Regions from separate parts of the Homo sapiens genome. Here all the other regions are linked to region 3. The links come from fine-mapping of genetic effects on gene expression. A gene starts in region 3. Each other region holds a variant in brackets. All regions are shown on one strand. Distances are between the middles of the regions.

Region 1 (9,713 bases), 35 kb after region 3:
TACAGGAGGATCTAGGGTTCATATTCAAGTCTGTCTAACTCCAAAGCCCATACTTTTGCCTTATACTGCAATCTTCTCCAGTCCCTGAAGGAAAGCAATGTTTCTGTTAAGAGGAAGGGGAAAGGTGTAAATGGGTTTTAAAGTGAACACAATGAATCTTAGGCAAACTTTTTTTAAAAAGCACATTTGTTTTTGGTGCCTGCCCACCTCCATTTCTCCATTTCGGTGTGTCTTTCTCCTACATTGTTACATTTCTTCTGTGGTTTGAGTACAAATTTAATAAAGCCATTGATTCTGTTACAATATTTACTATTTACAAAACAAAAGCTGTGCACAGTGGCTAATCCCAGCATTTCGGGAGGCCTAGACGGGCGGATTGCTTGAGCCCAGGAGTTTGAGACCAACCTGGGCAACATGGCAAAACCCTATCTCTATAAAAAATACAAAAAAAATTAGCTGGGCGTGCTGGCACATGCCTGGTGGTCCCGGCCACTCAGGAGGCTGAGGTGGGAAGATCTCCTGAGCCCAGGAAATTGAGACTGCAGTGAGCCAAAATCGTGCCATTGCACTCCCGCCCGGACAACAGAGTGAGACCCTGTCTCAAATAAATAAATAAATAAATAGATAATCAAATCTGATTATCTAATCTTTGTCACAGTTTTCTATCCTCTAATTTCTTAAGATATGCCAGCTTCATTTCCTTTCACTGGCCCTGTTGCCTGTGACAGACACTGGTGCTGCTTAGCAGAGAGAGGAAGCCATTCCACTGTCCCATATGGGCCCTAACACCAGTCCCTTCTTTGCTCTTTCACTCCTCAGTGAAGACCTTCTTGGATCATTTCCAAATCTCTTGGTCCTTATTACTAAAATGTCGATGTGAATGGATTGTCCATCAGAAATCTGGCCTCTGAGAGCATTCCTCAAGTTATGCTGACAGTCAACATAGCCATGAATTCATATTTGCACACAGCTTCTTAGGAAAAGAATTCTCAGGCAAAATAACTGCAGTGTGTTCTGGTTTGTAAACCAAACATGTTTGATTTGTCATATACCATTCAAATTTTAAAACCTTTAAGTTTTAGTGAGTTGAGTGCTCTTATTTTACAGATGAGGAAATGAAAATCCTGAGAAGCTAAGAAATATCCTAAAATCACACAACTTATTAATGCTTGTACGGAATTAGGAACTAGATCTTCTTATCATATCTCTTCTAGTGAACAAACAATAAGGCCAAAGTTAGTATGATGTGACAGTGGAGCACTTTGCTAGGAATGAAGACAGCCAGGTTTAATGCCCAATTTTGCTACTAAATGTGACATTAGATTAAACTTTTACTCTCTCTGGACCAATTTCTTCAACTATAACCTGATGGATTTGATCTAGAAGTGCCCAGTAAGATAGTCACTAGCCACACATGTAACTATGGAGCACTTACAGTGAAACTAGTCAAAATTAACATGTTCTGTAAGTGTAAAATACCCACTGGATTTCAAAGACTTAGTACCACACCAAGAATGTAAAATATCTCACTACAAAACAATTTTTATATTAATTGCATGTTGAAATGATAATGTTTGGATATTTTGGATTAAATAAAACATATTACTAAAATAATTTTTACCAGTTTTTTTTCTTTTTTAATGTGGCTACAAGCAAATTTAAAATTAACTGGATGGCTTGTATTATCTTTCTACTGGATATGTTACTGTAGGAGACTTCTCAGGTTTCTTTTAGATCAGAGGTCAGCAAACTTTTTCAGGAAAGGGCTGGAGAGTAAATATTTTTGCCTTTTGTGGGCCACACGGTCTCTGTTGCAACTGTTCGTCTCTGGCCTTGTAGCACTAAAGCAACCACAGAATACATAAACAAATGTGTGTAGCTGTATTTCAATAAAACTCTAGATACCAAAACAAGCGATGGGCCAGATGTGGTCTACAAGCTAACTGTAGTTTGCCATGTACGTTCCTTGGGTCTATTCACATTTTCCTCCATTCAACGTTTACTGAAAAGCTGTTATCTATTTAAAGACATTTAGAATAAAGAGCCAGCCTCTGCCTTGAGCCTAGGGAGGAGCCAGGAACATAAACACACAAGCCAGCAGGATACAATGTGAACAACACTGTGATCAAGGAGATTGGAGAAGGCTTCTTAGGGGAGTAACAGCTGAGTTAGGATTCTGCAGAATGAATATGCAGTTTTCCAGATTCAGGAAAGGTTTTATCTAGGGAAACATAATAGCACACATAAGGTGACGTGTGTTTATGGCAGCCGGGGAGTACTGTGGTGGTGATAGTGGGAAGTGAGATGGCAAAGAGGAAAAGGGCCAGATGATGATTAAATGCCTTACCTGCCGCAGTGAGAGCATACACACATGCTCTGATAGCACTTCTTAGACGGGAATTCTGAGGGTCAAAGCATGCCATCCTGGGGTTGGCCCATGGCAGCACCAGCCATGAAGAGCAGCCAGCCTGGCAGGTGTGGAGAGGCCCCAGAGAACCACAGAAGCAGCCGCAGAAGTGATGAGTGAGCAATCTCCAGGTAACTAGATCTGTTTTGCAACAGGGGCTGAAAACCTAACCTAATGCTGGCCACCAATAGGGCTAAACAGTGTTAGCAGGTACTGTCAGCAGGCCTCAGGCAGAAGCAGACAAGAAGGGTAAGAAGTAAAGGAGAGGGAGGAAAGGAGTTGAAAGAATAAGAGAATGAGGTGAAAGCTGAAGTCCCCACAGAGGTAACAAAGTACTGATTGATTTCCTGAGGACACCCTCAGTGGTGCTGGGTGGGAGGCTGCTGAGGGCCTGTAGGCTAAGTTCGGGGATTGTTGGCCTAAACTGTGCATTGGAATCTTTTATGTAATTGGAATTTTTAAAAAATCATAATGTGGAGTATAATGGCATATCTTTAAAATTATAAATATATATGAGGCATATGTGAACGAATGAAAGACAAAAGAGAGAAAGAAGGTGTACAGGAAGGGAAAAAGAAAGAAGAAAATGAAAACATGATTGATTGCAAAATAAGTAAATAAATGAATAAGTACTCATGCCTGGGTCCCACCCCTGGAAATTCTGGTTTAACTGGAATCAGGGCCCAGACATGAGTAATTTTAAAAGATGATTCCAGTGCACAGCCAGGGTTAAGCACCACTGATTTGGTTTAATAGAAGCTGAAGTGATGTCCCATATCTACTTGGCTGGTAAGTAGGTACTCAGTAGAGGTTTTTTCAAGGTGAGAGGAAAAAAAAAAAGGAAGGTACACAAAAAAAGGCAGGAAAGCAACAGAAATAGAGAACCTAAACCCATTCTCATATGCTTGAAAGCAATTTAAACTACAGTTATAGTAGGTTAGTGTTGTTATCTGTTGTATGTGAAATGGACAACATGAAATACAAGAATTTTCTGCATTAACTTGACATGACTAAAATCAGACAGCTTCACCAGAGTTTTTTGGTCTCAGACAATCTAGAGTACTCTCTTTCTCTGGAATTATCAACTCTTAGGTACATGTCTTCTGATGCCCAAAATTGCCAGTCAATTCAGAAAGTAGAATGTTGCTAAGTTGATAAATTGAAGCAGCTGCAGACAACCAGCAAAACCTAAGCTCTGGTTTAGTTTATTTATTTATGTATTATTTATTTATTTATTTTCTGGCAGAAGATCCAACACAAAGATACTTAATAAGAGCATTTAAGTTCAAGAGCAATTAAAAATAGTAAGTTACCTTTTTATACTAGGAGGATTATAAATGGACATTTCTCTGCTTTTGAAATCAAGAATAGAAAATACACAACTATCTCAAAAGACTCAGCCTATCTGATCATCTTATTTTGTACTGCAATTCCAACTTCCTATCTGCCTTTTCTCATTTTTTTTCTCTATAGCACTTCATCTTTTTGCATACTGCATACTTGTTAGTTATTTTGTTATGTCTTCTCCATCTTCACTAGAATGTAAGCTCCATGAGATCAAGATTCTTATCTGTTGTACTCAGGTATACGCTTAGTGCCTATCACAAGTGGGGACTCAATAAATGTTTGTTGAAAAATTGAACAAATTGTTTTAAAACTGTCATTAGTTGGCCGGGCATGGTGGCTCATGCCTGTAATCCCAGCACTTTGGGAGGCCGAGGTGGGTGGTTCACCTGAGGTC[G/A]GGAGTTCGAGACCAGTCTGACCAACATGGAGAAACCCCCGTCTCTACTAAAAATACAAAATTAGCCGGGCGTGGTGGCACATGCCTGTAATCCCAGCTACTAGGGAGGCTGAGGCAGGAGAATCGCTTGAACCGAGGAGGCAGAGGTTGCGGTGAGCCAAGATCGTGCCATTGCACTGCAGCCTGGGCAACGAGAGCAAAACTCCGTCTCAAAAAAAAAAAAAAAAAAACTCTTGTTAGTTTAACGTGTTACAGAAATATTTTAGAACAAGAGGGTAATGTCTAATATCACTTCAAGATTGTGTCACACTAAGAAGCAAGTTTTTTTAAAAGGTGTTATAATGTTATTAAAGTTGTTTGAAATGAGTCAATAATATATACACAGCAAGTGTAGGTATACATTCAATTACTAGTGTGGAAGGAATCAGATGAAGTTAGTCAACAGTTGTAGAATTGCCTTTTGACTGAAAAAGGATCATCCTAGGATTTTTATTCAAGTCTAGATCATGCTAAAACATTGTCTCCTCTGTCCCTGTTCTTGCTGCCATACACTTTTGCTATAAGATCAAAGAGATGAGGTCAGAAGGAACAGGGAGAGTTAGAGAACGTAATGAATGCTGGCTTTCTACAATTTGTAAGCAAACCGTTATAGATCCACTTGGAGTTTAAAAGCAGAGTAGGCCGAGTGCTGTGGCTCACACCCATAATCCCAGCACTTTGGGAAGCTGAGGCGGGTGGATTGCTTAAGGCCAGGAGTTCAAAACCAGCCTGACCAACATGGCAAAACCCTGTCTCTACTGAAAATACAAAAATTATCCAGGCATGGTAGTTCACGCCTGTAATCCCAGCTACTCGGGAGGCTGAGGCACGAGAATCATTTGAACCTGGGAGGCAGAGGTTACAGTGAGCTGAGATTGCACCACTGCACTCCAGCCTGAGCAACAGAGAGAGACTGTCTCAAAAAAAAAATAAATAAAAATTTAAAAAGGCAGAGTGGTCAGGTGCAGTGGCTTATGCCTGTATCCTCCTGCACTTGGGGAGGCCGAGGTGGGTGGATCACTGGAGGCCAGGAGTTTGAGATCAGCCTTGGCAACATGGTGAAACCCCATTTCTACAGAAAAAGAAAAATTTACCAGGTATGGTGGGACACACTTGTGGTCCCAGCTACTTGGGAGGCTGAGGCAGGAGTATTGCTTGAGCCCAGAAGATCGAGGCTATAGTGAGCTGCGATTGTTCCAACACACCCCAGCCTGGGCGACAAAGCAAGACCATGTCTCAAAGATTAAAAAAATTAGGCCGGGTGCAGTGGCTCATGCCTGTAATCCCAGCACTTTGGGAGACCGAGGCAGGAGGTCAGGAGACCTGAGGTCAGGAGTTTGAGACCAGCTTGGGCAACATGGTGAAACCATGTCTTTACTAAAATTACAAAAATTAGCCAGGCGTGGTGGTAGGCGCCTGTAGTCTTAGCTACTTGGGAGGCTGAGGCAGGAGAATAGCTTGAACTCTGGAGGTGGAAGCAGTGAGCCAAGATCTCGCCACTGCACTCTAGCTTGGGCAACAGAATGAGACTCTATCTTTAAAAATAAATAAATAGGCCGGGCAGGGTAGCTCACACCTGTAATCCCAGCACTTTGGGAGGCCGAGGTGGGTGGATCACCTGAGGTCAGGAGCTGGGGACGAGCTTGACCAACATGGAGAAACCCCGTCTCTACTGAAAATATAAAACTTAGCCGGGCATGGTGGCACATGCCTGTAATCCCAGTTACTCAGGAGGCTGAGACAGGAGAATTGCTTGAACCCGGGAGGTGGAGGTTGCCGTGAGCCGAAATTGGGCCATTGCACTCCATCCTGGGCAACAAGAGTGAAACTCCATCTCAAAATAAATAAATAAATAAATAAAATAAAAAATAAATAACGAGGCCGGGCGGGGTGGCTCACGCCTGTAATCCCAGCACTTTGGGAGGCTGAGGCCGGCAGCAAACAAGGTCAGGAGTTCGAGACCAGCCTCGCCAATATGGTGAAACGCCATCTCTACTAAAAATACAAAAATTAGCCAGGCATGGTGGCAGGCACCTGTACTCCCAGCTATTCGGGAGGCTGAGGGAGGAGAATCGCTTGAACCCGGGAGGCGGACGTTGCAGTGAGCCGAGATCGCACCACTGTACTCCAGCCTGGGTGAAAGAGCAAGACTTCATCTCAAATAAATAAATGAATACTTACATAAAATTAAAATAAAAATAAAAGCAGAGTGAAAACTACCAACAAGAGTTTATTTATGATAAATTGGTCCAAAGTCCCATAGTCCTGGAGCCAGGACCCTTGTAGACTTTTGATTTGAAGAGATTTATGGCAAATTTAATCTGTGTAGGCCTGAGTAACCCTGGGCTAGTTGAAATAGAGGATTATTGAGGAGAGTATTTGATTATAGTTAAGTCTAATGAGAAAAGTTCTTGACTGTAGAAGGGTGTTAGATTTTCTTGATACTGTCATACATTGTGACCATTTTCTAATAAAAAATACGTGAGCACCATCATTATGAATTTCACATAATGCATTTATGCATTTCAGTAACTTATGGAGTTGTAAGTGAAAGGGTATATTTTTGGTGGGAGCTAGTCCCGTAAGAAGCCTTGCCATTTGGGCCTATGGCTGAGTCATTACTTCTCACCTGTTGGCAGCTAACTGAATTTTGGGCATACTACCAAATGGTAATTTAGTCTTGGGGTACTTATCTATCATTGCAAACCAGTGAAGTGGTGGCACCAGTACTGAAACATTGATTTCAATTCTATATCATAGTTAGTTGAGGGAGACAAACAGACTTGGGGGCTGAGGGAAGAGAAGGGAGAAAAAATGGAGAGGTAGAGGAGAAAAAGATGAACAAAGGAATAAAGACAGACATATCAAGAGACAGTGAAAATACTATGCCACGTTGACTTGTGCACAGACATATAGACCTGCACCTGTGCACACAGTGATCCTAGAAACGCAGATTCACACAGAAAGATAGACTTTAATGGAGTTTAGGGTTTGTTATTAAAGGCTTCTAAAGTCATTTCTTTTTCTCCCTAACTACAAGATATAAATGGGAATAACAACATCTGGTACTTGCAAAGTGAGCCAAGACAATTAAATTAAAAGTAGAAGGTTAACCATCCTGCCTTGGAATGTGCTCTTTAGGCATTGAAAAACATTTCAAATTTTAGATTTTTCTTAAGGCAAAGTCTTTCAAATTACTTTTCAAGATTACACCTACTTAGAAGATGTAACAATGTGTTCGGATATCATGACGTCCTTGCATGAATCAAGGAAGGTATGATTTAAATAATGTTTTTAAAGCCATATATGAGACATATAGGAAGCAAGGAGAATAAATTAAGGGAATTCTGAATAATATAGAGAAAATTCAAACTAAAATTGTGCCAAAGTCCCTCCATGCCTGCCCACACCTCCTTTTGTGGAATCTGCCCTGCCCACCTTTGCTGACCAAGTGGCCATGTTTTATGCCACATGACCCTGCCTCTCCACTTCCACCCTGGGTGATGATGTCAAAAGATAGCGTCTGGCCTACGTACTGCCAGTTCAGTGACTTGATTGTGGTGGATAGAATGTAAACTCCATGAGGGCAGACATGTTTATCTGTCTTTTTCACTGTCTTTACCCCAGCATCGAGATGAGTCCTTGGCACATATTAGGTGTTCCGTAAATATTTGATAAATGAATGAATGACTGTGGCTTGGCCCAAATAGATGAACTGGGTCAATTAGAGTTCTCCCTTATGGATCTGAAATTTGAGAAAAAGGGAGGACATAGTGAGGCAGAGTGAAAGGACGTCAGGGACTTGAATGATAGCCAAAATTCACAGGCAAGTTACCAGGAAATTGAAAACAGATGGAGCTCAGCGAAAAACACTAGAGCACGTGCATAGAAAGATGCCACAACATGACAAGAGATGAAAAAGCTGCTCTGTACCAGCCCCATTTCCCATGAGGCTTCCTGTGCTTGGATCACCACAGGATCACTGCAGTGTCTTAAAAATACCCACAGCCGCAGCCCTTCCTTCCCTTGAGTTAGCTTAAGTGATTATCTGTTCCTTTTAATTACAAAAGTCCTGACTTCAGCAATAATGTATTTGATACAGTAATGATGCCCCAAGATAAGGTTATTATAACTACTTATACGAATATCAAAAGAAAGATGCTAAACTGGTATACATAAATGATTAAATCCTGTGAAAATAGAAAAATAAGATAGATAAAATGAAACCAGCCCAGGGGTTAAGAATACTAAAAAATATTTACTCATGCAACAAAGAGATATTGTTAAGTGTTTGTTAAGTGTTTACTAGGTGCGGGCATTGTGCTGGAGCTGGAGATGGCAACATAAAAAGACATGATCAACCCTCTTTAGGTATCAAAGGTCTAACAGGGACACAGCAAGTACAATGAAGAACCATAGAGAAGATGCAAACAGAGTGGGAAAGGAGCATGTGAAAAGGGGACATTTTGAACTGAGATGTGAGGAGTAAGTAGGATTTTGCTAGCAATGAATGAAAAGATTCTGCAGAAAAATTGTACTAGAGATGCTGAGTGGGAGGAGGACAGTCTAGGCGGGAGGAGTAAGTGTGCAAATGCAGAAAGGCAGGAAAAAAACAATCTTGGAATTATGAGTCTGTGAAGGGCAAAAAAGAGCCCGCAGAAAATGAAGCTTGCTGAACAGGTAGGCAGGGCCAAATGGTGAAAAATTTGAGATTTTATTCTGTAGGTGACTGGGAGCCATAATGAATACCAAGCACTGGGGAGGCATGGTTACATTTGCCCATGAGAAATTTCACCCTGATGTGAGGGTAGTTTGATTCGAGCCTAGCAATAGCTGGGGGAAGGGAGTGAGGGGGTGATGTGGTGGTGAATGACAATGGTTCCTATAGAATCTACGGCAGCAGAGGTGGGTTACAGAGAAGAGCTGGATATGAGAGTTTTGGAGTAAAATCATCGAGACTTAATAATTGATAAAGTCAAGATTGATAGGTTTGTATAGACAAAAAGGAACAAAGATATGAAAAACCGTCATTAACATTTGGAAATTACTGTTCCTAAAGAAAAGTTACACACTTTCACTTAATCATCACTGTGGGAGAGGAAGAGCTGCTGCTATTATCAAAAGCTCCCATTTTATAGAAAAGAACGTGTCTTAGAGAGCTGAATTGGCTTGCCCAAGCTCACTCCTACTTAAGAGGCAGAGCCAGAGTTAAAGTTTAGTTTCTCTAACTTGAAGCCCACTCTTTCTTTTTCTTTTGTTTCTTTCTTTTTTTTTTTTTTTTTTGAGACAGAGTCTTGCTCTTTTTACCAGGCTGGAGTGTGCAGTGGTATGATCATGGATCACTGCAGCCTGGATCTCCTGGGCTCCAGTGATCCTCCCACCTCAGCCTCCCAGGTAGCTGGGACTACAGGTACATGCCACCACATTCAGCTAATTTTGTTGTTGCTGTTGAGACAGGGTCTCATTCTGTTGCCCAGGCTGGTCTTGAACTCCTGGGCCCAAGCAAATCTCCTGGCTTGGCCTCCC
Region 2 (8,723 bases), 25 kb after region 3:
GGCATGGCAGCTCACGCCTACAATCCCAGCCCTTTGGGAAGCCATGGCAGGAGGATAGCTTGAGGCCAGGAGTTTGAGACCAGCCTGGGCAACATAGCAAGACTCCTGTCTCTACAAAAAAAAAAAAAGTATGAGAGAAATTTCAACCAATTATGGGATATTTATGCTCGAAATACCCTGAGTCACTGAAATGTGTCCAAAGGTACGTGCTATATAAATATCATGAGGGCCAATAGGTCATTCTTGTGTACAGAAGGAGAATTTGTTTGTCAAACAAGAAGAGCAGGGCATTTGCCATTGATCAATCTGGAACTATCTACCATTCCCATACACTACATGAGTAAGAAACTGATCAACTGATGACTCTTATTTTCAATGGGAGTATTTTGATAGGCCCAGAGATATGTATTAAAACCCAAGCTTGTTAGTCAGTGTATCTCCCCATTTTGGGTCAGAGAGAAGGCCCTAGGGTTGTGAGAATGGGCAAGGCATATGCTACACTCTGGTGTCTAATATGATTATTGCAACCCAATAAACATGTTACTGTTTTAAAAGCTTGGTTTCAAGAGTACAAATTTGATATAAGTTGGGAATGGAAAGACATCAGAATGTGCAGAAAGGTGTTGAGTTATCTCTGCCTGTGTACCGACAACAGTGGGGCTCTCTGTCATAGGAAGGAAGGCTTTATGTGGTGTGACTCGGGGGTTTGCTCTCAAAACTTGATTAGAATTCAGGTAGGTCAGACAGAAGGATTTGAAGGACAGCAACAATATAAGGAAAGGCAGAGAGGTGAGAATGAGCTAGGTATTACACACAGGACAGTCAAGAGACCATACAGTGAAGACTTGACAGGCAAGAACAACTTGAGCAATACAAAGTAATGTTGGACAGATGGGATAAGGGCAGATCAACTTCCCATAATTCTACTGATGGAAAAAAACAGAGCATCAGAATTTCAAAGTACTAGCAATGTGATTTCTCTGTAAGTAATATAACTCATTTTAAAATATTAATGTAGCCACTCTGTAGGATGATGGTTAGTTAGAAATTGCTATCATATTCAAGCAGAGCTTGAAGAGGACTGGATCTCTGCTATGGTTTTAAAATGTGTCGTCTCCAAAACTCATGTTGAAACTTAATCCCCAGTGTGGCAGTGTTGAGAGGCCTTTAAGAGGTGATTGTGTCCTGAGGGCTCTGCTCTCATGAATGGATTAATGGGTTATCCAGGGTGTGGGACAGGTGGCTTTATAAGAAGAGGAAAAGAGACCTGAGTTAGCACACTCAAACTCCTCACCATGCGATGCTCTGTGCCTCCTTGGGACTCTGCAGAGAGTCCCTACCAATAAGAAGGCTCTCACCAGATGTGGCCCCTCAACTTTGGACTGCTTAGCTTCCGTAACTGTAAGAAACAAATTCTTTTTCTTTATAAATTACTCAGTTTCAGATATTCTCTTGTAAACAACAGAAAATGGACTTATACAGTCTCCTAAGATTTCAGATCTGGGAACTGATTTTGAGTTCCTGTACATGTTACAGTAGATGGAGGAAGAGAGGAAATTCAGAAGTGCATTCTCAGCTAAACTGAGGGTATAGATAGATTTACTAATGAGACAAAGTAAATTTGTAGCTATGGAAACAATAGTGTCATTCAAGATTGCTTCCTTTCTCAAAGTGGGAGGCAACAGGACAATGATTTTCTCTTCCTGTATAGGAGCTGCTTCCTACCAGGAGTGTGGGAAATGAGAGAAGCATCACCATTTATTATGTGCCCAATCATTATAGGCACTGTTTAAAGGAAGGATCATAGGGATACAGAAATAATAATGGGTGAGGATAGGAATTTCCAAGGTCTTAGCAGGAACTGTCCTGTTGGTGCTACATTTCTGTGGACTTTTCCCCCCCTCAACCTTTACCCTCTGTTCTTCCAATTCTAAACAAGAAAAAGTGATACTGAAACTCACCAACCTTTAACAACTACTGCATAAATGTCTTTTAAATACTTGGTTTTGGAGTAGCAATTACTGGAGCACTTATCTGAAAAATGCCTGCTGAGCCTAATCTCTAGATATCAGAGAATTAAATAAAATGCTTGAAAACTGAATAGTAATTTAGCAACATCAGTTATTGAAGTGATGTAGAAGTGTTTTTTTCACATTAAGGTACCAATATGATACCACAATCCCATCATGACAGTGGACTTGACCCTTTGAGTTAGCAGAACAAAGGACTTTATGTAACTATTTTAGGCAGTAAAAATTTCCAACTCAGCACCATTTTTTTCCTATAAACCTGTCCTGCATACATCACATTGATGTGAGAGTCAGATGAGATAATTATCTGAAGGTGCTTTGTAAACTGAAGAGCTATATAATGGTCAAGGAATCATTATTCCTATCATTCAGTGAGTCATAAAAGAACATGTTGGAAGGTCATTTGTAGGACAATATTCTTAAATTCTAGAAAACTGCAGTTATCTTCGAGAACTAAAGATATTGAACAAAATTTTTGGAATATTTATTACACGTTTGGTAGGCTGGTAAGATGAACTGCTAACAAGAATTAAATACATTAAACAGTATGAGTTCATTACTTTCCTTTTTAAAGCTTTAAAATACTGTGTTCCACATATATACAGGTATATTTAAAAGGATATTCACGGCAGCATTGGTATGACAAAACAACACAAAGAAACAAATAAAACCAATCTGGAAACAACTCAAATGTCCATCATTATGGATTTATTATATATATATATATATATATATGTATGTGTATATATATATATATATATGTATGTGTGTATATATATATATATGTATGTATATATATACATGAATACTATGTGACTAATGAAAAGAGTGAAGTAGAATTTATAAGTACTTACATGGAAAGAGAGCCAAGAGATACAAGATGATAAACACGATGTGCAAAACAATATTTAATGTATGATGAGTATGTTTCTAAGAGCTATATAATGGTCAAGAAATTTAAAAAGTCTATTTAGGAATATGTGCTAATAATAAGGAAAACATTATTGACGAATATCTGCTATTTCTCTATTAACAACGGCTCGCCACATCACAAAAGTTTAACTTTCTACAATATTTCTGTAATGTTTTAACTTTTTATAATGAGCTTACGTTACTTTCATGAGCATAAAAAGTCAAGATTACAAACGATGAAAGACCCATGCTTCAAACAAAACCTAAACACATTGAAGAGCAAATATGATTGACTTGCAAAACTCTGGAAAGAAATATTGAAGATTTGAATTGTTAAGGCCAAATAAAGTTTAGTTCGACTTGCTGAGGTTGATGTGGAATTGTAAGATTTGAAAAAATGCCTCCAAATATTGATCCCATTGCTCTGAAGCACCAGGCAATAAGTTCAAAATACTGTTCAGAGTCTCCATGGGGCTGAAACAACTCTTCCTGCTAACATAAGCTGAAACAAAGATGAGTTTTATACCTTTGTAAGATGTTTAGCTTTCGTTCATGACCAACAAGTCAAAGGTCCACATGTTTGTTGATGTACTCTAAGCCCCAGAGAGAAATCAACTAAAATGGCTAGAATGTAGGTTGAACAAGGTCAACTTGGACTTGCACGAAAGGTAGTACTGGTAATGACCAAGGCTAGCTTTGTTATTTCCTGTCAGAAGCAAAGCATGAAGAGTGTGGATTGTCTGCAAAGGGAGATATTAAAAGATTCAGCCATTTCAAAGACAAATGATTGCCTTCCCTTGTTTTCCTGTGTTCGTCCATTTACATACTTGATAAAAATGCCTGATTGATGACTGAATATATATATATATATATATATAGAGAGAGAGAGAGAGAGAGGGAGAAAGAGAGAGGAACTATGAGTTTATTAAAATTGTAATGCTATAGACTGTCTAGCAACATGCAAAACGAATCTGATGCAGAAACATAAAATAATGAAATTTTATTTTGTTAGGATGGTGAGATTACGGGTGACTTTAAAAATTCCCTATTATTGGCTGGGTGCAGTGGCTCAAGCCTGAAATCCCAGCACTTTGGGAGGCCAAGGCAGGTGGATCACTTGAGTTCAGGAGTTTGAGAACAGCCTGGCCAACATGGTGAAACCCCGTCTCTACTAAAAATACAAAATTTATCACGCCTGTAATCCCAGCACTTTGGGAGGCCGAGGCGGGTGGATCACAGGTCAGGAGATCGAGACCATCCTGGCTAACATGGTGAAACTCCGTCTCCACTAAAAATACAAAAAAAAAAAAAAAAAAAAAAAAAAAAAAAAAATTAGCTGGGCATGGTGGCGGGCGCCTATAATCCCAGCTATTTGGAAGGCTGAGGCAGGAGAATGGTGTGAACCCGGGAGGCAGAGCTTGCAGTGAGCCGAGTTTGCGCCACTGCACTCCAGCCTGGGCTACAGAATGAGACTCCATCTCAAAAAAACAAAAAATACAAAATTTAGCCAGGCATGGTGATGTGCGCCTGTAATCCCAGCTACTCGGGAGGCTGAGGCAGGAGAATTGCTTGAACCTGGGAGGCGGAGGCTGCAGTGAGCCGATATAGTACCACTGCACTCCAGCCTGGGCGACAGAGTGAGACTCCATCTCAAAAAATAAAATAAGACCATCTCAAAAAATAAAACAAGACCGGGCGCAGTGGCTCATGCCTATTATCCCAGCACTTTGGGAGGCTGTGGCAGGTGGATCACCTGAGATTGGGAGTTCAAGACCAGCCTGACCAAAATGGAGAAAGCCCATCTCTACTAAAAATACAAAATTAGCCAGGTGTGGTGGCACATGCCTGTAATCCCAGCTACTTGAGAGGCTGAGGCAGGAGAATCGCTTGAACCCGGGAGGTGGAGGTTGCGGTGAGCCAAGATCACACCATTGCACTCCAGCTTGGACAACAAGCGTGAAACTTGGTCTCAAAATAAATAATAAAAAATAAAAATAAAAATAAATAAAATAAAATTTCCCATTATTATTGTTTTAAAATAGAGCAAACCACACATTTAAAAACAACACAAACTTTTTTTAGACAAGATGACTCCATGAAAATAATAGCTTCTTTTTACATCTCAAAGATTGTACATGAAGAAAAAAATTCTCCAATACTTAATTTGCAAAACCAGTTTGCTTCTAGATTAATTCTTAGAAATCTTTACAATTAGTTGTAAACGTAGCATAAGAAAAAAAATTGTAGGCTAGGTGTGGTAGCTCACACCTGTAATCCTAGCACTTTGGGAGGCC[A/G]AGGCTAGTGGATCACTTGAGCTCAGAAGTTCGAGACCAGCCTGGGCAACATGGTGAAACCCTGTCTCTACTAAATATACAAAAAATTAGCCAGGTGTGGTGGCACATGCATGTAGCCCCAGGTACTTGATAGGCTGAGGCTGGAGAATTACTTGAAACCGGGTGGTAGACGTTGTAGTAAGCCGAGATTGTGCCACTGTACTCCAGGCTGGGTGATAGAGCAAGACCCTGTTTCAAAAAAATAAAAAAAAAAAAAAAGAAAGAAAGAAATAAAGAAAAGGAAAAAAACATTGTTCTTTCGACATCCTTTGACTAATTGCTTCTGTTTGTTCAACAGACTCTGCAATATCCCATTTAAGGCAAACATTCAAAATATAACGAGCCTTTGAGAATTCGGACGTTAGATTCCATAAGTCCACTACATCCCTAGTGGCGTTATCTTACAGGAATATAGAGTAAATATGGATAGATTAAATAATATCCCCTTCTGGAAAAATAAAGATTAAAATAAAAAAGAAAGCTCATATCCTCTATTAAATATTTACTACAAGTTCCTAAAAGCCCCCTAGGGAATCTGAGTTCCAAGATTCATAATGCTTATATTAAAAACATTGTGAACACCAACATGTTTATAATTTAAATGTATGAAACTGTATTATCTTAGAATGGCAAAATAAATTATAAATCTTGATCCAAAAAATTTTTAATTGAAAAGAGCTCTTATATTAAACTCAGGAAGCCAGTTAGAAGTAGCATAAGCTTAAGTTCTGTTTTAATTCAGGCCATGTAAATATGCTTAGTAGCAGAAATTACATAAATTTGGGATTTAAAAAAATTCATTGTTAATATCAGCTGCTAGGTGAATTACAGCATGTTAGAACCATATTGGTTTTCAACTAATTTTAATCAAAGATTATGCAATGTATTACTTTACTTTCATTCTTATAAAAAGCAGTGCTTAAGTGGTGAAATATAAGCTGTTACATAAATGTATTTGTTTCTATGTGTATAATTGAGCTGCAGCGCTGTGCTGCTTGTTCCACTAAAATCTGATGTGTATTTGCTCATTAATTTTTATTTTTATTTTTTGAGATGGAGTATTCCTCTGTTGCCCGGGCTGGAATGCAGTGGTGAGATCATGGCTCAATACAACCTCCTCTTTCTGGGCTCAAGGAATCCTCCTGCCTCAGCCTCCTGAGTAGCTGGGACTACAGGTGCATGCCACCATACCTGGCTACTTTTTGTGTTTTTTGTAGAGAAGGGGTTTCGCTATGTTGCCCAGGCTGGTCTCGAGTTTCTGGGCTCAAGAGATATGCCTGTATCAGCCTCCCAAAGTGCTGGGTTGTAGGCATGAGCCACTGCGTCTGCTCCACATAACTCTTTAAAACTTAGACTCAATAAGATTTAAGAATAAATGGTAAATAAATGTAATTTTAGAATAAATGGTAGAATTTTTTTGTTTGTTTTGTTTTTTGAGACACAGTCTCGCTCCGTCACCCAGGCTGGAGCGCAGTGGCGCAATCTTGGCTCACTGCAACCTCCGCCTCCCAGGTTCAAGTGATTCTCGTGCCTCAGCCTCTTGAGTAGCTGGGATTACAGGCGCGCACCACTACGCCTGGGTAATTTTTGTATTTTAGTAGAGACGGGGTTTCACGATGTTGGTCAGGCTGGTCTCCAACTCCTGACCTCGTGATCTGCCCGCCTCAGCCGCCCAAAGTGCTGGGATTACAGGCGTGAGCCACTGCGCCCAGCTAAATGGTAGAGTTATTAATGTTAGAAGAATGGATTGTAAATATTTCATGTTGTAAAGGCTACAGTTCTTTAGTATGAATACAGCTAAGTTATTCCATAGTTTTGCACGCACAGTATTTCAAATAAGAAAAATTTTATGAGTAGCCATCAGTGATCATATACTTCCAGAAATTTCTCTCATGTTAAATCTGCATGATCAGCTGAATAAAAACACTTCAAATAAAAGAAATCCATTTAGTAACCCCATCACTTTGGGAGGCTGAGGCAGTCAGATCACCTGCGGTCAGGAGTTTGAGACCAGCCTGGCCAACATGGTGAAACCCCGTCTCTACCAAATATACAAAATTAGCCGGGCATGGTGGTGGGCACCTGTAATCTCAGCTACTCTGGAGGCTGAGGCAGGAGAATTGCTTGAACCCGGGAGGTGGAGGTTGCAATGAGCCGAGATCACGCCACTGACACTCCAGCCTGGGCAACAGAGTGAGATGCCATCTCAAAAAAAAAAAAAAGAAAAAAAAAAAGAAATCCATTTAAATATAAGGATTTTTCCTCAAATACAGTTCAATTAAAATTTGTTGACTTTATTACACAAATGCACACATGAATAAAACATAGATCCTATCTTCAGGCTTTCCTGTCAAGCATAGGTCATAAATGAGATACACAAATAATTACAATGCAGTGTGATTAGTATAATTATAGATATGTATATAAGCTGTAACAGTAGCAGAAGTAATTAACTCTACAACTGAAGGCCTCACATGAGAGGTGATGTGTATACACTGGTTTTGAGGGATGACTGTGAATTTCACATGAAGATGAGAGGAAGCAGGAGTGCACCTTCTCATCTTTCTCATTCTTTTTTTTTTTTTTTTTTTGAGACAGGGTTTTGGTCTGTCACCCAGGCTGGAGCGCAGTGGCGTGATCTCGGTTCAACGCAACCTCCACCTCCTGGGTTCAAGCAATTCTCCAGCCTCAGCCTACCAAGTAGCTGGGACCACAGCCACGTGCCACCACACCCGGCTAATTTTGTATTTTCTGTAGAGATGAAGTTTTGCCACGTTGCCCAGGCTGGTCTCAAACTCTTGAGCTCAAAGCAATCCATTAGTCTTGGCCTCCCAAAGTGCTAGGATTATACACATGAGTTACTGTGCCCAGCCTGTTTCTCATTCTTTATTCACAAAATAAAATGTATTGTAATCCTATAATCATTTTATCAAAGAACTAACAACTTAGAAGTCCTGAAAAAGTACAAATTGACTTAGTATCAAAGTCAAGTATTATACATAATTTTATTAAATAAAATAGTCATTAAATTCTACATACTTGCAGTCCCATCAAAAACATTGGCCAAAAATTAAAAAGGCACTTCTTAACTTGTAGATGGTGGCACAGGGAAATAAAGGCACAAACTGGAGCCAGACTGCCTAGGCTCGATCTCAGGCTCTGCTTCTTACTTGCTGTGTAGTCTTGGACAAGTTATTTAACATCATTGTCCTTCAGTTTCCTTATCTGTTAAATGAGAATGACGATAATAGCAGTATGGGCTTCATAGGGTTGTTAAGATTAAATGAGTTAATAAAAGTAAAATAGTCAGAATAGTGGTGGCCAGTAAGTGCTACGTAAGTGTTGGATGTAGTTATTATTGTGTATTTCTTTTAAATACTCTAAATTACAGGAAAAAGGGTAGTCTCCTAGTTCAATTATAGCTGACAGTTGGTTCAAAATAAATCTG
Region 3 (11,072 bases):
GATGGCACTAGGTTGCCAAAATGAGCTAAGTAAAAACAAAGGGTTTCATGAAATAAGTGGTTGAAGTTACTTGATTTCTGTTGCCTACTGTGATAGTTCTGAAATAGCTACTGACTCACTGCTGTCATTATGAGATACTATTTGGAGGTGGGGGTGGGGGTCATACCTAACAGGGGCTCCTCACTGAGGCTTCAAAACTTTTCAGAGACTTCATTTTACATACATGAATGCCTTAATTTTTAGGGGATCTGATACACCTATTTTACAAACCCATACTTTAGTTGCCTTCACTGCAATTAACAGTTCATGCAACATCCAAGATACTTTGACAGACTTTGCCAACTGTCAAGTTTCAGCTGTTCTTCTCCATTTCCAAAAAGTTCATAAACTACTATTAGGGGAGCCATAATTTTTTTCTGCCCAATCACTGATTTTATTAAAAATAATTCCTTTGCTTAGACTGCCCCTAGACTTGCAATAATTATCTACAATTAAGACGAAGATAAATCCTTATTATAACCTAACATTAGTTTAAAAAAAGAAGGTTGTAATATGTGAAACACTTTACCCACAGTATTAAATTTTAGATATCTATTACAGTAAGGTAATTATGGATTGCCAAGGTAAAGCTTTAAAAGCCATTTAAAGCCCTGTTTCCTTTTGCTTGAAATAGGTCCAGGCAGCTATGCTAATTCCACAAACATTTATTAGGCATAAATACGCATAAAGTGTGGAAACGTCAGCAAATGCCTTTGCTGTATGCTCTTCTACTTCCATCTACCCTTCCTCTCTCTACTCAAGTCACTATCAATGAGAAAGGGTCATAGCCCCAAATACAGGCTTTCCAAAAAAAAAAAAATAGCACCACAAAATGCTCGCTCCTTTTTCTCCTCAGTCCATATATAGAACTTTATTAACTAAAGGGCAGATACATTCATTTATAAACAAATTAATTATGCTAAGTGTCTAAATGCATGTTATGTGTGGTGCTAACTTTCCCACTTTAAACAACAGCCCCCTTAGTATTAAATTCATCCTGTCTCTTCAGATTCTAGGCGCTTCAGGAGCCGCGCCTTAAGGTGCAGACATGGCCAAGTCCAAGAACCACACCACACACAACCAGTCCCAAAAATGGCACAGAAATGGTATCAAGAAACCCGAAGCACAAAGATACGAATCTCTTAAGGGGGTGGACCCCAAGTTCCTGAGGAACATGCAGTTTGCCAAGAAACACAACAAGAAGGGCCTAAAGAAGATGCAGGCTAACAGTGCCAAGGCCATGAGTGCACATGCCAAGGCTATCAAGGCCCTCCTAAAGCCCAAGGAGGTTAAGCCCAAGATCCCAAAGGGTGTCAGCCGCAAGCTCAACTTGCCTACACTGTCCACCCCAAGCTTGGGAAGCATGCTCGTGCCCGCATTGCCAAGGGGCTCAGGGTGTGCTGGCCAAAGGCCAAGGACAAGGATCAAACCAAGGCCCAGGCTGCAGCTCCAGCTTCAGTTCCAGCTCAGGCTCCCAAAGGTGCCCAGGCCCCTACAGAGGCTTCAGAGTAGATATCTCTATCTGCCAACGTGAGGACAGGACTGGTGCGACCCCCCGCCAGGCTGCCATCTGCATGGGGCTGTGGGGCTGGGGTCCTCCTGTGCTATTTGTACAAAGAAACCTCAGGCAGGGAAAAAAAAATTCATCCTAAGCTTCCCTTGGTAAAATGACAGGCATTCATGCAGCTTAAAGGTTCTGGAAAACTGATTTTCTTCCATGATGCTACTACTCCACAGTCTAGACAAAATGCAGCCATCAACATGAAAAACTGCTGCTTGATTTTTTTTCCTCCAACATGTTTTAAACAGAGCTGCAGATGCTCAAGGGAAGCCATATTTCTAAGGTTTTGAACAGTAGTATTTTTCAGTATTTTTCTCATTTAAAATTGGTGCAATTCATCCAAAACATTTTTCAAATGCCATTATTTTTCAGCGTTAAGCGCTTAAACTGCTTAGAGTGAAAAAGGTCTCCATCAGAAAGATCGACTTGCAGAAACCAACTAGTGATCATTAAAATGAGGAGGAGAATAAAAAGAAAGCAATTCGTTTTTTACAGTTTGGAGAAATCTTTAAGTCATCTCTAAATCGTTCATTTTACAGGTAAGAAATAGAGTCCACAGAGGTCAAGTAATTTGCCTCAGATCACTAAGCTACTAATAGCAGCGCTAGAAATAGAATGAGGTATTTTAATTACTCTTAGCGGTACCCCCAAATCATGCAAGTTATATATATTCTCATCACTTGTCATTCAAGTTTTTAAAACCATTATAACTTTGTCATTAATTTCTGAGGAACGTCTCCTACAACATGCTCTAAATTTTCAAAGTTATGCATGTTAAACTTCAAATTCTAACTCCAAAAGGAAGGTACTATTCAAGAACTTTCCTCAGAAAGTTTCAAGCGTGTGTACACACCTAAACCATCACGATGAATTGCAGAGTCCATTCTTTAAAACATGCCCCTCAACTACACTTCAGATGTGTTTGTTCAACCACACACACACAAAAAGAGAAAATTCTGGAAGTTCTTCTGCCAAAAAGCAGTGACAACCTGTCAATGAAATCAGATTGCTCCATTAATATATTATGGGTTTCCAGCTTAAATTAGGAAGTGTCACTAGCATTTCATCAACCCACAGTGTGAAGAGTTAATAAAAGACTGGAAAATGCACTCTCAGTTGGCTCTGGGTCCGAAGGAAGGTGTAGATCTGATACTGTTAACTCAAACTGAAGGGCTGAGCTTAAAAGCGAAAAACAAAAGGAGTGAACAAGTTCCTTAAACAAAAAGCTTTTTCCTACGAAATGCACCCGTACCGTGGTGACCGCATCAGTAAGACTGAATTTCAGATTTTCGTTTTAACGCCCCAGTAAATCAATTCTATACATTTTAGCTTTGAATATTCAAGGACAAGACAGAGGGCACGGTGAGGGCAACAATTTACTCTGGATCACTTTCAAGGACTGTTGTCTAACCACTCATTAAAATCGTTCCTTTGTGCAACTGATTATCTAAAAGTACTGAGAGAATGCAGTACTTCTCTTTGAAAGATAACCGTCAGCAAAAGCTAAAATAATGTGATTTTGATTACAAACTGATGCAGCAGTCTGACCAGTAAAGTGTAGAATGCGTTGTCTTTGTAAACATTACTCACAAATCCATATTCAAGTTACAAACGATATATGTGTTTTTAAATTATGACCTCTGGTACCGCTCTACAAAAATGCAAAAATAACCTAAAAGGTTAGCATGCCTATTTCTTTAAAGTATGACCAGCTTAGCAAGGTGGCAAGTTTGTTTGAAAACACAAAACACAATCACCACCACCGCTCAATAATACACATACATAAACAGATTCGAAGCTGTGTTAAGCACAAAAATCCTTACCCCATTTTGCCCAATGAAAACTTGCTCTGAAGTTTCAGCTCTTATGCTACGGAATAACTTCCAAAGGAATTTCTCCGTCTGCTATTTCGCAGTTGCTTTTCCACCCCCACCCCCAGATCCTTGTCCGGAGGTATTTCAAGGATGCTGCCAATTCAATTAGTTCTCTTAGGTAAAATGATTTCTCTCTTGTAAATACCAAAACGTTCAAACAGAGGCGGCATTTGCTTATTCGAGTTAAAATGCTTTGCGGAGGAGACAGCGATCAACTCTATTCCACAAAATGAGTCTACAAGTAGGGAAATGCAGAATCCGGCTTCACCGAGTCCTATAAAAAATGAGTTCGCTGGTCATTTCACTCATGTCCTCCTCGACACTCAGGGAGAGCCAGGTAACTCGGCCTTTTCGGAGCTAAGGCTGCGGGTTCAAATTTCTCCACCACACCAGGTCTCCGGGGGTGGAGCGAGCAACCAAACGCGACGTGCACGTGAATAAAAATCCCAAAAGCAGTAATGCCACGGCTTCCCTGCGCTCACATTAGGAAAAAAACTACACAGGAAAATCTCCTCGAAGTGCAAACCCGGCAGCTCGCAACCTGCACGGCACTCCACATTGGAATCTGTCTTTTTAAATGTTTCTCCTCCTAAGACTCGGAGCAGAGAAGAGGTGGGGAGGACGAAGAGAAGGCTAGGCAGGATCGATTCATTCTCCCGAAGAGAATAAACGGAGCCATTTCCAGGCTGGCAGCAGGCTGGGGGCGCAGCGCACGCCGGAGAGCTGGAGGAGGGGACCCGATCCCACCTCCCTCAGCCCCTTCCCGCCCCCCGCCGCCGAGCACAATGGAGCCCGGCTGGTGCCCGGCCCTTCATTCGCGGCTGCCCCCTCTTCCCTCCTCTCTTCAGAGCACAGCGGGTCTGAGGCTCCCGTCGGCGGAGAATGAATGAATCACAGAGCCAAGCCCCACGCTTCCACTGGCACCCTGCCCCCAGCTCCAGGGCGGGCGAAAGGGGCCGAAGGGTCGACGGGCGCCTGCCCGAGCCAAGGCGGGAGGCTAAGCCCGCGTTGGGGCCAGGAGAGCTGGGCTCGAAGCCGAAGCGCAGCCGCCGCTCCAGCGCCCCCACCCCTACTCCTCGTCTCTCACGCTCCGCGCCGCCGCCACGCGCCGCCTCACATTCCCCGGGCCCCGCCGCCGCCTCTTCACACTTCCATCAGCGCCCGCCTCCGGCTACCGCCGGGCAGAGCAGCGCCAGCCCCGGCGGCCTGAAGCCTGCCGCTGCCTCCGCCTCCGCCGGCCGGCCGGCTGGCAGAGAAGAGGGTGCTGCTTTCCCGGTCAGCGCCGCCGGCGTGAAGCTAGCGCGGCGGCAGAGTGGGCTGCGGGGGGCGGGAAGGGGGCGGAGAGAACGGGGAGCGAGGGCGGTCCCTCCCTCTGCTCGCGGGAAGGGACGGGAGGCGGTGGCCGCCGCGGAGCCGCGGCCGGGGGCTGGGGCGCGGACTGGTCCCGGGAGCCCGACGGGCCTTGCGAGCAGCGGGCCGCGGGAGAAAGCAGCAGCCGCAAGGCGGCGGAGAGGCTGATGGTGGGGGGCCGAGCGGCCCTCGTGGGGAGCTGGGCCGGCGGCAGGCCCTCAGTCCGTTCGTCCTTCTTTTCCCCCCTCCCCTAGAGGCTGGCGGCTGGCTGGCCGTGCGCTCTGCTCCTCCTCTGGCTCTTGGCCCCGCTCCCGACCGCCACAGCCTCCTCCGCGCCCCACACCAGGTGCTCGCGCTGTGTCTCCATCCTCCCCGCAGGAGGACCTTTAAATAGCAACGTCAGCGCGCTTCTCTCCGCACACACGTCACCCGCAGCTCACGTCACCGAGGTGCGGGGGATGATGTCACGCGGCCGGAAGTACTGCTAAATTAGGGAAGGAGCAGGGGGAGGAGGACTCGGCGAGCTCCTGTGTGCCCACCTGCTCTCACTTCTCCTTAAAGGCCAAAGCACAGGAGACAGCCCGAGAGGAGCTCGAACAAGGAAGCGGCGGGAGGAGGAGATTTCCTTGCAACAAATGTGCCAAACCTGAGTGAATCATTCGTAGCAAAAGTGCAGTGTCAAGCGGGTAATAGCCTATCTCCCACTCCCACCGCTATTGCAGCAGCACCCCCGGGCTTCTCTTGTCCTGACTAGCAGGGAAATGTGGGAGGGAGAGCCTGATCACACTGCTGGTAGATGTGCTTCCAACAGGACTTCGGAAAAATCACCTAAATTTTCAATTATAGAGTGCCATTCTGGACATAGTCGACTTTTAAACTTTTTGTTAGTGGTTACCTGAAACACGAAAGAATAAAGAGCAGAGCAATAAGCAAACGAAATAATGTTATAAAGGATAGTAATTTTATTTGCAAAATAGCAGTTTTGACATAGGAAAATGAGTCAATCTTAGTTCACGTATAGCAAATGCCAGTGTGTCCTCTCAGTTTCTCTTCATCAAGAATATGAGTTCCATGACACTTGGCTCCAGCCAGTAAAACAAGAAAGAGAAAAAGTATATGGGTTTCAGTCTGTGGAATTTAAATTAAAATTTAAAAATTAAAAATAAGAAAGAGCACCAAATCCTTTTTCATTAACACAAGCATATTTTCGTCTTCTTTAGTTTTGACCACATAATATGTAATTACAATATCTCTTAAGTGTGTTTTGCATTTTCTGTATGGCAAGGGTGAGTAGCTGTCTATAGGTTTACTAGCTATGTGTGTCTATAAACACCATATTATGAGTGCTTTTTACATTGTAAATTACTACAGAGTTTTTAAATTATTTTAAAGTAATTAGGTTAAAACAATTTTTTAATTAGGTAAATCATATAGTGAACTTTGATTTTATTTTACTTAACTTGATAAGCATGGCCAAGAAATAGAATTGCTGCGTATTGCCAAAGGCCAATACTGTTTCAAGTTAGTCTACAAATTTAGTGACCCTGTTTTCCAGACCAAAATCTAGACACACCATTTGACGTTAGGAAAAAATATTTGAATCTGAAGTGACCTGGAAAATCCAAAACATAGGATTACCAACCTATGAAGTGATTATTAGGAAAGTTATAGATCAATATCAACGCAGTTTAAATAAAAGAAGCTAAAACTCGTTAGAATGTATACCACGTGTGACTTTTAGAAACTGTTTGTAATGTTAAACTACTCACATGGTTCCTAATTAAGGAACATTGGTTTTGCAGCTTTCTGTATTTACATTTTCTTGCTCAAGTTAGGAGTCCAAGATTAAAGAACACCACCAACAACAAAAAAGACCCATTTGTAACTGATTCAAACACTCTGGTCATCTTCACATTATAAAATTATGATCTTGCTTGAAGTTTGAAATATTAAGTCTTTTTTTTGAGACTGAGTCTCGCTCTGTTGCCCAGGCTGGAGTGCAGTGGCGCGATCTCGGCTCACTGCAACCTCTGCCTCCCAGGTTCAAGCAATTCACGTGCCTCGGCCTCCTAAGTAGTTGGGATTGTAGGCGCGCGCCGCCACGCCTGGCTAATGTTTGTATTTTTAATAGAGATGGGTTTTCGCCGTGTTGGCCAGGCTGGTCTCGAACTCCTGGCCTCAGGTGATCCACCCGCCTCGGCCTCCCAGTGTGCTGGGATTACAGGCATTACCCACAGCGCTCACCCTAGTTTTTTACGTTGTTTTGTTTTGTTTTGTTTTTTGAGGCGGAGTCTCGCTCTGCTGTCTAGGCTGGAGTGCAGTGGCACGATATTGGCTCACTGCACCCTCCACCTCCCAGGTTCAAGTGATTCTCCTGTTTCAGTCTCCTGAGTAGCTGGGACTACAGGCACTTGCCACCACGCCCGGCTAATTTTTGTATTTTTAATAGAGACGGAGTTTCACCATGTTGGCCAGGCTGGTCTCAAACTCCTGACCTCAAGTGATCCGCCCACCTCGGCCTCCCAAAGTGTTGGAATTACAGACTTGAGACACTGCGCCCGACCGCGTCGTTTTTTTTTGTTTTGCTTTTTGTTTGTTTGTTTTAAGGTTATAACAAAAGGTTAATGAAAGGCAAATCCCTGCTTGCCAATTTGTCTAATGTATATTATTATCATATTAATCGAAACTTGTACCAATTTGTATTTCAGACAAATGGAGCTTCTTATATCTAAAATGTTAAAACAATAAAACTATCATTCTTCCAATAATGTCATCCCTTGGCAAATTAAAATACAAATTATGTTATTACACTACTAAAATTTCTCTACAAACAATTTCCTACCTAACTAAATAACTTCTCTCTTTCCTGCTCTTTCTCTCCATGTTAATTAAAGCTCTCACTTTACCATTTTCAAACACTTTATTCTACCCTTTCATCACAACTTCCTCTCATTTACAGTCTTTTTTCCCCTCATCTTTACCCAACTGTCAAAACAGCTTTTCAGCTGCTTTCCTGCCTTTAGAGTGCTGACCCTTTGTTAGTTTCTACTTTTCACAACCACATCGTCTCTTCTCAGCTGCTCTTTTATCAACTGAAAATTGAGAGCAGCTTTTTTTCTACATAAATTGAATGGTGCACTGTGATATAATTACTCAAAGTTTATGCAATTATTTAACTTCAGCCTCAATCTAGAAAATTCTACCTATAATTTATTACTTATAGGTATGAATTTCTTGCCAGCTTATATGGGATCAGGATCAGTAAGTACATGTGTCCATGTAGTCAAAAGAATATGTAAAACTTTGAAACATTTTATGTAATATGGCATGTCTTCTCAGAAAAAAATAGCCTTTTCTCCCTGCTTGAAACAATTCCAATACAGTTTTAAGAGGAGTCAGAGAGGCATTCCATGGCTTTCCATCTGTAAGTAAATAAATATCTTTTCTCCTAAGATGAGCTGATGTAACCCAAATTTTAGTTGTGAATTCCCAACCCTGATTTTTTTGTATGTTTTTTAAAATAGTAAACTTCCTAGAAAGTAATATATTTTCTTTTACCGGAAGAGGAAGAAAGTACTTTAGTAGAGTTTCAGATTTTAACAGTTCCTGTTTCCCACTGTGCTCTGAAAATTTGTAGGGCGGTTTATGAATACCCTCTGATTTTAGAATCTGTGGGCGAAGGCATCTGTTTTAGTTACAGAGTTTATTTCCATGCCCTTAATAGGAGATGGCAATCTTCAATGGGGTGTTCATACACTGGTCATGAGATATGTCTTTTTCAATGAAAAGACATCTAAGAGATAGAAAACCTTTGCAGGAAAGAGAGTAAAAGCCAGATTTTATTTTTAATTGCCTTACATTAGATAATAACAACTTGCTTTTAATTACCAAAATACCACTATCAATTCAAATAAAGTCAGATTGAAAAATAAGTTAAAAGATATCTCTCTATATAAAATAAATATCATAATTCCTAGTTTATAATACATAGTCATGAAGAAACTAACCAGCAAAGAGTAAACGTAATAAGAATGAAAGAGTTGCAGGGAAACAGAATTTATCCAGTGACTCTCCAAAATCATCCCACTTCCTCCATTATATAGCAGATACCGGGTACCATTGAGTTGTGTATGGCCTGTAATAAGACCATCTTTTATTGTCAGTAATGTTCTGAACAGAAGCAAAGTAGTTAAACAGTCTGAAGGGTGGGAACACAAGTGTTTGGCATCTTCAAGGCAAGGCTTGAGGACAATTTATTACAGAGGTTTGAAAGTGGTAGAGGAAAGGAAGCTAAAGAATTAGCCTTAGGAAAACTATGGTAGATAGCCATGGGAAATGATCTCAGAACTACCTCCTGCTCTGATTTTTACTGTAAATTCATTTTCCAAATATGGTCAGAGGGATACAAATGTAATCCTAGATAGTGAAAGAGGGTACTAGAAAGTTTTCAGTTAGCTGCTGTTGAGGGCCCACATAGAACAAAATTAGAGGAAATGGTAGTACAACTGTCTATATAACATTTTTAAAATATTCAGAAAAGATGGGGATAAGGTACCTTTGAAAAAATTGTCTGGCTTAACCTGGGTTGGTTGGTTGATTGTTTTAAGCAGGAGTTAGAGAAAACAGGCTAGAAAAATACGCAGATCTGCAGAGAACTACAGTAAAGAATGTGGAGTAAAGGTTGTGCTGTACCTGTGCAGTTACTTAGAATGGAATGCTGTGGAAGCTGATTGCCATGGTAACCAATAGTCTTTTTCCTGAATGGGGGAACAGAACAACCATGAGGAAAATGTTTTAAATGAACTACCTTATTTTGTGACTGTTATGGTGCCAACTAAAACAAAAACAACCCACAAGGTATTTAGGACAATCATTCTTATGGAAGGAAATGGCCTTCTTTTCAGAGAGACAAGGCTGAGGCAGAAATTCTGGAGCATTTCAAAGAGAGATGGGGCTTTAAGATGGCAATTGCAAACTCTCTGAAGCAGAACATAATGGATAGATATTATATTTATGGCTAAAGCAGGCAGAAGCAAGACCTAGAACTCGTGTTAAAGTTTCTCCCAAGCAAAAGAATCAGAAATAAATGAAGATTCTCAACACTTGAGAGTTTCAGCCAAAATATTTCATGAATTATTTATGAGGCTTTTTATTTTTTTAAATCTTGTTCTAAATTTTAATTTCTCTAAATATTAAATGGAAATGGTAAATGTATCTGTATTAGTTAGGGTTCTCTAGAGAAATAGAACCAATAGGGTATATATATAGAGAGAGGTAGGCAGGTAGGTAGATGATTGATAGACATAGAGACAGATGTGATATTTATTATAGGACGTGGCTCATGTGATTATGGAGGCCAAGAAATCAATGTCTGAAGCTGGAGAACTAGGGAAGCTGGCGGCATAATTCAGTCTCAGCCTACAAGGCCTGAGAACCAGGGAAACCAATGTTGTGACTCTCAGCTCAAGGCTGAAGGCCTGAGAACTTGGAGTTCTGATGTCCAAGAACAGGAGAAGGCAGATATCCCAGCTCCAGAAGAGAGAGAGAATTTGCCTTTCCTCTGCCTTTTTGTTCTACCCAGGTCCTCAGCAGATTGGACAGTGTCCACCTACATTGGTGAGGGTGGATCTTCTGTACTCAGTCCACAGATTCAAATGCCATTCTCTTCTAGAACCACCCTCAGATACACCCGGAAATAACGCTTTACCCGCTACTTATGTATCCCTTAAGCCAGTCAAGTAGATGCCCAAGATAAACCATCATATCTTTAGTCAATATTTATTCTATTATTATTATTATTATTATTGTTTTGAGATGGAGTGTCGCTCTGACACTCAGGCTGGAGTACAGTGGCACGATCTCGGCTCACTGCAACCTCCGCCTCCCGGGTTCAAGCAGTTCTCTGCCTCGGCCTCCTGAGTAGCTGGGATTAGAGGTGCCCACCACCATGCCTGGCTAATTTTTGTATTTTTAGTAGAGACAGGGTTTCACCATCTTGGCCAGGCTGGTCTTGAACTCCTGACCTCAGGTAATCCACCCACCTCGGCCTCCCAAAATGCTGTGATTACAGGCGTGAGACACTGCACCCGACCTATTATTTTTAATAACAAATCATATATTTTTATCATATGTATCAGTAGTCCCCAACCTTTTTGGCACCAGGGACCGCTTTTGTGGAAGACAATTTTTCCCCTCGGTAGGGTGGGGGAGATGGTTTCAGGATGAAACTGTTCTGCCTCAGGTCATCA

Alleles and levels. Positions count from the first base shown, and alleles are read on the strand shown. Sizes are in standard deviations (SD) of each study's normalised expression. Not every link is listed here.
For the expression in liver of the gene that starts at base 4,788 in region 3, allele G in region 1 goes with a higher level than allele A (moderate effect, 0.62 SD a copy in GTEx).

The links. PIP is the estimated chance that this variant, and not a neighbour inherited with it, causes the effect. A credible set is the group of variants that fine-mapping cannot tell apart.
Region 1: its variant is the best candidate, but not a certain one, in a credible set for the expression of HOMER1 in liver (GTEx, PIP 0.75).
Region 2: its variant is the best candidate, but not a certain one, in a credible set for the expression of HOMER1 in thyroid (GTEx, PIP 0.76).

What each region holds. Positions count from the first base shown.
Region 1 is chr5:79,545,107-79,554,819 of GRCh38, forward strand. LOC124901013 (a long non-coding RNA gene) reads right to left here and starts at 2,529. Exons shown (of 2, transcript XR_007058839.1): 1 at 2,348-2,529. LOC105379047 (a long non-coding RNA gene) reads left to right here and starts at 2,467. Exons shown (of 3, transcript XR_948497.3): 1 at 2,467-2,538. The variant G/A (reference allele first, on the strand shown) is at 4,149.
Region 2 is chr5:79,535,525-79,544,247 of GRCh38, forward strand. It overlaps LOC124901013 (a long non-coding RNA gene), which reads right to left. Exons shown (of 2, transcript XR_007058839.1): 2 at 8,262-8,723. Among named protein-coding and RNA genes, the nearest start is that of HOMER1, 26 kb to the left of the region's middle. The variant A/G (reference allele first, on the strand shown) is at 5,237.
Region 3 is chr5:79,509,347-79,520,418 of GRCh38, forward strand. It overlaps HOMER1 (homer scaffold protein 1), which reads right to left and starts at 4,788. Exons shown (of 9, transcript NM_004272.5): 1 at 3,424-4,788. The coding sequence starts at 3,428. It also overlaps the pseudogene RPL29P15. RefSeq lists a silencer at 4,361-5,070 and enhancers at 5,065-5,612, 5,321-5,510.